Linked DNA regions of Homo sapiens: region 2 is linked to region 1. The links come from fine-mapping of genetic effects on gene expression. Tissue or cell type: testis. Region 1 holds a variant in brackets; the other region holds the start of a gene. All regions are shown on one strand. Distances are from middle to middle.

Region 1 (5,154 bases):
AATGATAGTAGAAACCTCAATCTGGAATATGTGGTGGTATATTGGATGATTCCCCAAAACTTCTGGAGTTAAGAGGGATGATATCAGAAAAAAAAAACTAATTAAATCATTCTATAGCATAAGAAAAATCATCTTATATCAAAATATCATAAGTTCATGTTACTTTTGATTAAATTAACTTTCTTTTTAACTTTCTCTAAGAGCTTATTGCTCAAAGTTTTCTCTCGTTTAATTAGCTTTGTGGTATTATACTAAAGAGGGTCAATCATATTATGTATTGAAGTTGCACCTACCATCTCCAATACTTAGACGTTTCCTTTTTTTTTTTGTTCTCAGAGCCCAAATAGGTTAATATTCAGATTGTCACCTTAATACTATCCCTGAAGCAATAATTACTTGAAAGGAAAATAAATTCCTTCCTCTCTTCAAGGTAAAGTTAAAATATATGCAGTTTCAAAAGAGCTACTATTTCAGATAGAATAACATAAAATCAGCAAACAATAGCAATAGAACTTAACAATACAGACAAATAAATGCCTTTGAGGGTTTCTAAAAATATGTTTTTGTTTTCCTCTAAAATTTCACTTAGTTTTTTTCCCATGGTCACTAGTGTCATAATCATCGATCATGGGAATTTTTATGTTAAATTCTAATTTATTATAAACATTTGAATAAATACAATCTCAGTATTAAATAAAATTTTCAATAACCTTTAGGATTTCTGTTTGTCACTAAAGTGATAGCTTGCAGCAGATCAATGACCTGACAGATAACAAATGCTATGAGAGCCAAAGATTATTTTTAAAAATCTGTTTAAAAGCATTCATGATACATTAAGCAACAGGATTTGAAAGGCCAATGTATCAGAGAGGAAGGACCTGGAGAAGTAAGTAATGAGCTGCAAAATATACTTCTCCTTAGAGCATTTATCCTTTTATTTTATGGATTGAAAAGTGAAAAATCCCGGCAGAGAAATTTTGATCAGAACTTGAGAAGCCAGGAGAGTACTTGGCAATCTTACAGGGTTGACAAAGCAAAAAAGAGTTTAGAGCTGCCGAGGTAGCCAGGACTTGAAGGATCAAGCTCAAGAGAAGTGAGCACCACACACACCACTAAGTTTCCCCCCAAGAATGTTCTAAAGTATTAAACTGAGAAGGCTAAGAAGCCAAGCAAAGAAGTCACCAACAAGCAGAGTGGAATTTTTCAGAAACTTTACAGTTTCTGAAAATTTGGGGCTCAAATCTACAAAACGAGAGAGGCCTTGATGAACACCTCAGGCTCTCCATTGGGACTCCTGAAAATTTACACTCTGGCGTTATGTTTGAATCACATGTAGATTTAACTTAAAAGTTAGATAATCCTGGAGTCAGTTCAGCTACTGGTTAGATGAAAATGCTCTGCCATCAATCAAGATGCATAGCAGAAGAAGGTGAACTGTCTTTCTGCTGTACATAGTATGAACCAGGAGTCTTTGTCATTTTTAATACAAAAAATCCAGAATTCAATAAAAAATGATAAGGCATACTGGGCAAATCTCACACACAGAAGGTTTATATTGGAGTTACAAATATGGACTTTAAAATAACTATGATAAGTATATTTAAATAAATAGCCAGGTGAAGAATTTTGCTAGAAAACTGGAATCTATCTTAAAATTCACATATTACTTATAGAATTGACAAAAAAAGCAGTAAGTGAAATTAAGAAGTTGGTAGGTGTATATAACAGCAGATTAGACATAGCAGAAAAGAAGATTGGTGAATTGGAAGATAGGGAAACAGAAATATCTAGGCTGAAGCAAGGGAAAAAACAGGCAGAATATATAGAAAAGAACAGCAGAGACATATATGAGAATGTTCCTAGCAGCATTGTTTGTATAATATAAAAAGAGAAATGAATCAAATATTTACCAATAGTTCAAGGGATAAATTTTGGTAGCTTTATAAAATGGAAATACTTTAAGTATTTAAAAACTTTAAATACTTGAGCTACAGTAAGTGAAGTCCAGATGCAACCACATAGAATAGTTTGGACACAAAATATTTTTTTGTAGAAGTAGAGAGGTTGACATGCAGATACAAGCAATCCAGAGAACTCTTGTGAGATACTATATAAGGTCACCATCCCCATGGCAAATAGTCAACAGATTATCCAAAGTCAATAAGAAAGAAAAATTTTTAAAGGTAGCGAGCAAAAAGGGTCATATTGCCTGTAAAGAGAAACCCATCAGACTAACAGAACCCTTATTAGCAGAAGCCTTACAAACCAGAAGATATTGGGGGCCCACATTTAGCATTCTGAAAGAAAATAAATGCCAGTAAAGAATTTCAAATCCTGCCAAACCGAGCTTCATAAACGAAGGAGAATGAAGTTTTTCCCAAACATGCAGTTTCTAAGGGAATTCATCACATCTTAACTGGCCCTCCAAAAAATGCTTAATAGAGCTCTAAACATGGGAAGGAAAGAACACTTGCTCCCACAAAAGCACATGCAAGCACACAACCCACGGTCCCTACAAAGCAAGTACATAATCGAGACTACCACACAACTAGCTAACAACACTATGAAAGGAACAAAGCCTAATATTTCAATATTAATCTTGAAGACAAATAGCCTAAATGCTCCACTTACAAGACATAAAGTTGCAAATTGGATTAAAAACAAAACAGACACATTCTTCTGCTGTCTTTAAGAGACAAACCCACCTCACACATAATGATATGCATGGGTTCAAAGTAAAGGGATGAATAAAGACCCACCACACTACTGGAAAACAAAAAGGAGGAAGAGCTACTATTCTTAAATCAGATAAAATTAACTTTAAACCAACAACAGTCAAAAATGACAAAAAAGCATGACATAATGATAAAGGGTTCAATTCAACAAGAAGACTTAACTATCCTAACTATATATGCACTCAATATTGGAGCACCCGGCTTTATAAAACACTTACTTCTAGCCTTAAGAAAATACT[C/T]TGATAGCCACAAAATAATAGTGGTGTACTTAAACACCTCACTGATATAATTAGATAGTTCATCAAGGCAGAAAACTAAGAAATTATAAATTTAAATTTGACACTTGACCAATTGGACCTAATAGACAACTACAGATTACTCCACCCAACAACGACAGAATAGACATGCTTCTGATCTGCATATGGAACATACTCTAAGACTGACCACATGCTCAATCATAAAGCAAGTCTCAATAGATTTTAAGCAAAATTATATCAAGCATCCTTCTTGGACCACAGTGGAATAAAAATATAAGTCAATACCAAGAAGAACTCTCAAAGCCATAGAAATACATTGAAACTAAACAACTTGCTCCTGAAGAACATTTGGGTAAACAATGAAATCAAAGTAGAAATAAAAAGTTCTTTGAAACAAATGAGAATAGAGGTACAACATACCAAAAACTCAGGGATGCATCAAAAACAGGAAAGTTTATATTGCTAAATGCCTACATCAAGAAGATAGAAAAATCTCTAACCACCTAACCTCATACCTATAAGAACTAGAAACATAGGAACAAACTAAACCCAATTCTGTTTAGGATTTATGTTTTTCTGTTTAGGATTTATGTTTTAGGTTTTGAAGGATGTTCCTTTGATGCTTAGTTTGTTGAGAGATTTTTCATGAAGAGATGTTGGATTTTATCAAATGCATTTGCTGAATTTATTGTTCAATGGTTATGATCAAATCGTTTTTAAATTTTAATTCTCTTTATGGATGAATCATATTTATTGACTTCCATATGTTGAACCATCTTAAATCCCAGGAATAAAGCCCACTTGATCATGGTGAATTAACATTTTGATGTGCTGCGGGATTTGGTTTGCTAGTATTCTGCTGAGGATTTTTCTATCTATGTTCATCAGGGATATTAGCCTGTAGTTTTCTTTTTCTGTGATGTCTTTGCCAGATTTTGGTATCAGGATGATACTAGTATTATAGAATGAGTTAAGGAGGTATCTTTCCTCCTTGATTTTTTGGAAAAGTTTAAAAAGAAACTAAAGTCAGAGCAGAAGAAAATAAAATAAATGAAAGCACAAGAAAAGAAATAACTAAAATCAGAGCAGAACTAAATGAAATTGAGACCCCCCCAAAACATGCAAAGAATAAATGAAAAAAAAAAACTTGGTTCTTTGAAAGGATAAATAAGATTATTGATAGACTGCTAACTAGATTAAAAAAGAAAACAGAGAAGATTCAAATAAGCAAAATCAGAAATGACAAAAGGTGACATTGCAACTGATCCCACAGAAACACAAAAATGCTTAGAAACTACTGTGAACATCTCTATGCACAGAAACTAGATCTAGAGGAAATGAATAAATTCCTAGAAAAAACACAATCTCTCAAGATTAAGCCAGGAATAAACATAAATCCTAAACAGACCATTAAAACGTTGAATAAGTAATAATAATAATAAACCTACCAACCAAATAGCCCTGGACCAGATGGATTTACAGCCAAGTTCTACCAGATATACAAAGAAACTGGTACAAATGCCACTGAAACTATTCCAAAAAATCGAGGAGGAAGGACACCTCCCTAACTCATTCTATAATACTACTATCATCCTGATACCAAAATCTGGCAAAGAGAGAAAAAGAAAACTACAGACTAATATCTCTGATGAACATAGATAGAAAAATCCTCAGCAAAATACTAGCAAACCAAATGCGGCAGCACATCAAAATGTTAATTCGCCATGATCAAGTGGGCTTTATTCCTGGGATTCAAGACGGTTCAACATATGCAAGTCAATAAATGATTCATCACATAAAGAGAAATTTAAAAATGATTTGATCATAGCCATTCATCAATAAATTCAGCAAATGCATTTGATAAAATCCAACATCCCTTCATGAAAAATCTCTCAACAAACTAGGCATCAAAGGAACATCCCTCAAAACCCCCAGCCAACAACCTACTGAATGGGCAAAATTGAAAGCATTATCACTAAGAAGTGGAACAAGACAAGAATGTCCACTCTCAGCACTCCGATTCAACTGGAAGTCTTAGCCAGAGCAATCAGGCAAGAGAAAGAAATAAACATCATTTAAATAAGAAAAGAGAAAGTCAAATTATTTCTCTTCACTTATTGATATGACTCTTCATGTAGAAAACTTTTCTGATTCCACCAGAA
Region 2 (5,154 bases), 290 kb after region 1:
GAATGGTGATAGAGCAGTCACCTTGCTATCAAGAGATGACCAGGAAGATGAAAACCACATACAAAGATGATGGGACACAAAGACAGAAGCCTGGAACATTTATGGCATTAGAGATGAACCACAGTCAAGTTGTTGGAGACGAGTTTCTGTTATATTCCATCAAATACAATCCTAGGATATCTCACACCTTCCTGAAAACCCTAGTTCAAACCTATTTCTTCAGTAAGCCTTCTGGGATGTAATAATAATAACTCTTGCATGGGACTTTATTGTTTGCAAAGTACTTTCACATACTTTATATCTTTCGATATTCACATCAGTCCTGTGGCCAGAATACCCTTCTCTTCATATTCTCACCTCTCTGGAGTTGATGCCATCCATCCCTATACTGTAAACCACACTGTAGAACAATGACTCCCAAGCAGCTGCCTCCAATCTTGACCTCTCTTGAGCTCTAGATTTGTTTTCCAACTGAATTCTGGGCACCCAGCTCAAAGACGAGTACTTGAAACATCTAAACTGTGTATAACTTAACCTGTTATTTTCTCATTTCAGGTCCCTAAACACTGCTCTTAATCCAGTATTATTTTAATAAATCTCAGTTAATATAATCACTCAAACTGACAAGCTAGAAATTTCAGAGTTATCCTCAATTCCATGCTCTCTATAACTTCCCAAAACAATCAGGAATCAAATCCTAGATCACGGCCACTGCCATGAGATTAGGTTCTCATCATTTTTCTGGTGGACTACTGTTAAGATCATTTAACTGGCCTTCTGCAGAAAGGCATCCTAAAAGATAAATCAACTATTTTTATTTATTCATTCACCAAATAGTTAAATGACTAGTCTTCTGCAGAAAGGAACTCTAAAAAAGAAATCAATTATCTTTTATTTATTCATTCACCAGATAGGTATAGAGCACCTGCTACATAATAAATATTATAATGTTAAAAATATGGTTTCAACAAAAAAACTTGCCATGTTATAGTAAGAAGCTAGTAATCCTAAAGTCGATATAGATTTAGCAAGTGATTTATTATATTACTGTTGAAAACGCAATGAAAGTAATAGGAATAAAATAATTTACTAAGGTGGTATATTTTTTAAAGAGATTTGTTTTCTTTGGTATTGTAATGAATCAGCAGGAAACATTTTAAAGAAATGAATTCATTTGGTTTTATGGAAATATAAGCAAAAATAAAAAGTGTGATATATAGTTTAGAACATTAATTTCTAAAATACATTCTGTAAAATACTGCTTCTTGGGATGAAACTACCTCGAAAAGCTTTCTGTTGTGAAATGTTTGAGAAACCACTGGATTAGACAAAAATAAGTAGGTTTGCATATACTAAGATTTCTCAGTGTTAATATTCTCATATATACTCTACATCTCTCTGAGTAGCAGTGTGACATGTAGTACTTTAAAATTTATTGACTAAAGAAATCTTTAGAACATCATCTCCTAGAACTACATACAGGACACATTTTGGAAAATGTTAAGCATTTGTGAGCAGACACTTTACCAGGAGCTCTGGATGGACAATGAACTTCAAGACAGGAACATTTATCAAATTTATCATAACAATGAATGATTCTGATAATGAATCAGACGTTCAGCAAGAATATAGCACTACTCATTAAGATCATAAGGGTCCATGCAGAATAGGTCTTAGTGAAATAAAAATCTGCTACCTTCAATCAAGTATGTATGTGGATTACCCAAACCAAGAATGTTTATACTTTAAAGAGAAATGTTTCAGCTCATGAAATGGCTCCAGCAGTCTGCCTGGGTGCTTGGCAGTTCATCTGCAACCTGGCACAGACCCAGATTTCTTTTTTTAGTTTTACTATTAATTCTTCATGTATTTTTTTAAAGTTCCAATAAAAATGAGGTTGAAACTGTATACTTTAAAAGACAATTTCTGAAAAACAGATAATATTAAAATTATATCAAGACTTTGGAAAGGTAACATGCATTAGAGAATATAAGATTTAGACTCTAACCTGAGGAAGCAAATTATTTGACCAACCAAATGATAGAATTTGTTCAGACATACTGTTAAGATGGTAAGGTAAATAAGAGACTCTTACTACAGTCTTATCCCCTCCTAGAAATTTTTCTAATAGACAACTTGGATATTTTTCTCAAGATTAACGGCTTTTAAAAATTGTTTTATTACACATCTCCAATATACCCCCCTCTCTCTTTCACACACACACACACACACACACACACACACAGAGCGCCAAATTTTTGAACCTTCTCTTTTGAAGTCCAAGAGTCTTCATACTAAATAAATAATAAATAAATAAAAATCAAAAAGGTGCAATTTCACCAACCACAGAGGATGTGTGAAGACTGGTCTTCTGAATTCAAGGTTGCCCCAGGATAAGCGAGTCCAGGGGAGATTAAATGAATTTCCCTATTCATAGCAATAAGAAAGTTCCCACCTCCTTTATTCTCCCCAACAAAAAAGCTTCCCCTATCAAACGACCTGGTGGCTTTTCCAGGATGGACTGCTTAGACTCTTAGGAGGGGCCCAGATAGCAGGCCCAGCCTGGGGTTGCGAGTAGTGTTTCTTCTAACAAAGCTATGGCACCCTGAGAAAGGAGGCTCAGTATTCCCCTGTGAGGATCTTTGTGGGTCTTTCAGTTGCCCTAGGATGGTGAATATGACAATAACCTGAGCTCCCAAATCATCTGAAGCAGGACCTCTTAATCACTCACCGCTGCGCTCTGAGCCGCTGGGAACCAAGGCTGGTTGCTAAGGACGCTGTGGGAGTCGCTCTGAGACAGACGTTGCTCTTTTACGGTCTCGTGACCAGGGCTTAGCCAATCAGGACTTATAAGTGAATTTCCACCTGCCCTGTCCCGTCTCCACCACATTTGTGTTCAATTTCTAAAGAATAAATGCAATGTTGTGTGAAAGACCTTTATTCGTTTTTAAAGAACATAGTAATGATTTGTTTCGAATATTGTACATACTTGCATATCCTGCAAGAAGCCACGGCAAGAAGCGGCTTCACAGTGCTTTAATGTCTCCTCAGTGTCTTAATGCTGCTTCCCCAAAACAAACCAGCACGCCTATCATACCAAAAGTAGCTATGTCTTTAAATTAAATTGCCGTTCGTAAGTTCCTTTTACATAGAAAATTTGGAGCAGTCAGTGTCCTCAGCACCCGTCAGTGAGTAAACAAAGCACCTAGAATGTTCTGCTATGTACTAAACACCAGAGGGCGAATTTAAACACAAAAGAACGCCTCTTTTTAAAGGTAGTATGCAATAGAATTATCTAATATAAGTCCTTTAAAAATCCTTGTAGAATTCCTATGTCTACTAACGAGCAACTGTATATATTTTACAAAGGTTCACCAGTGTAAAATACTATATGGAAGAATGGGGAAGGGCATTTATGATTAAATTCATACGTAGGCCGGGCGCAGTGGCTCATGCCTGTTATCCCAGCACTTTGGGAGGCCAAGGTGGGCGGATCACGAGGTCAGGAGTTCGAGACCATCCTGGCTAACATGGTGAAACCCGTCTCTACTAAAAATACAAAAGTTAGCCAGGCGTGGTGGCACCCACCTATAATCCCAGCTACTCAGGAGGCTGAGGCAGGAGAATTGCTTGAACCCAGGAGATGGAGGTTGCAGTGAGCCGAGATCATGCCACTGCACCCCAGCCTGGGAAACAGAGCGAGATTCCATCTAAAGAAAAAAAAAATACTAAAACGTAATATACAGGGATTGTCCTGTGAAATGACCTGCCTTTAAAAATTAGAACTTTGAAAGAAAATTTAACTTGAACTACTTCGATTCGGAATTAAGTTTTTTTGTTTTTTGAGTGCATTTTTATGTTTAAAACAGAAATTACAATATGTGATCTCAGGCTTCTCTGACGTATCACTCCTAGAAGATCAGTAAGTTAAAGGTAATAATGAAAAGTGAAATTGACAAAGACTATAAACTACATATGTGAGAGAACAAATCCTAGAATATCAACAGTGCTTACCATAATCCAGATAAAATAAAAATGAAAAGACTGTGGTATTTAATAATAGCCTGGGGGCTTGCTTGTTTTAATTTCAAGAGATCTAGAAAAGTGTTAAAAGCATAAAAAAATACAAACTGTTAACCAGGTTATTCATAATCAAATGAAGATTGAATTAAAAAGGAATAAAAGGAAGGCCGAATAAAAAATTCTTCTCCATAATATAAGAATCAGTTGAAACTATAGCATGTTTAGAGAAAAAAAGTCACCCCATCGATTCTACAGTGAAGACAACAGAACAAGTTTATATAAGGAAGAATTCACAAATACATATATATATATATTACACATATCTACTTATTCTAAATATATCTACTGATTTTATATATGTATCTACTGATTTTATTTATATATATATCAGTAGAATGAAAGATTACAGAAAAAGCATAAAATTTATATATGATAAATTTGCCATTTTAACTCAGTGGGGAAAAACTGTACAGAGGCTGAGCACAATTTGAAAGAAAATAAATCTGAACTACTATCTCATACCATAGCAACAATAAATCTCAGAGGAATGAAGCTTAAAACAGGAAATAATTTTAAATAATTTTAAGATAATATTGGTATAACCTTAGAGTCACAATAATATTAAGCTAATAGGAGACCCACAATGATTTTAAAAAATGACAAGAATATTTAGAAAATTTATGTAAGAAAAATAAATCTAATAAAGTCATACCTCCCCTTTCTCCCTTTAATTAGTCATCTACATTGAAGTTTTGACAAGACAAATCTAATTTTTTCAAATTATTATATATATACCTATATATATATAATCCTAAAATGGCCATTAATTAGCAATTAGGAAAATAAGCATGTCAAAACCATCCTAACCCCTTAGTATGGCACAATTATGCTTTCAGAAACTATATCATTGCCTACTTGCCCAGTTTTTTTCTGCTTTTTTTTTTTTTACCAGTCTTTTTTATTTTATTTTATTATTATTTTTTGAGATGAAGTCTCGCTTTTGTCCCCCAGGCTGGAGTGCAATGGAGCGATCTCAGCTCATTGCAACCTCCACCTCCTGGGTTCAAGCGATTCTCCTGCCTCAGCCTCCCGAGTACCTGGGATTACAGGCGCCTGCCACCACGCCTGGGT

Alleles and levels. Positions count from the first base shown, and alleles are read on the strand shown. Sizes are in standard deviations (SD) of each study's normalised expression.
In carriers of allele T in region 1, the expression in testis of the gene that starts at base 2,776 in region 2 tends to be higher than with C alone (small effect, 0.34 SD a copy in GTEx).

What was found. PIP is the estimated chance that this variant, and not a neighbour inherited with it, causes the effect.
Region 2: it holds the start of TMEM232, and the variant in region 1 is fine-mapped to the expression of TMEM232 in testis (GTEx, PIP above 0.99).

What each region holds. Positions count from the first base shown.
Region 1 is chr5:110,430,040-110,435,193 of GRCh38, forward strand. The region is part of intron 12 of TMEM232 (transmembrane protein 232); the gene reads right to left. Among named protein-coding and RNA genes, the nearest start is that of MIR548F3, 81 kb to the right of the region's middle. The variant C/T (reference allele first, on the strand shown) is at 2,975.
Region 2 is chr5:110,723,896-110,729,049 of GRCh38, forward strand. It overlaps TMEM232 (transmembrane protein 232), which reads right to left and starts at 2,776. Exons shown (of 14, transcript NM_001039763.4): 1 at 2,732-2,776.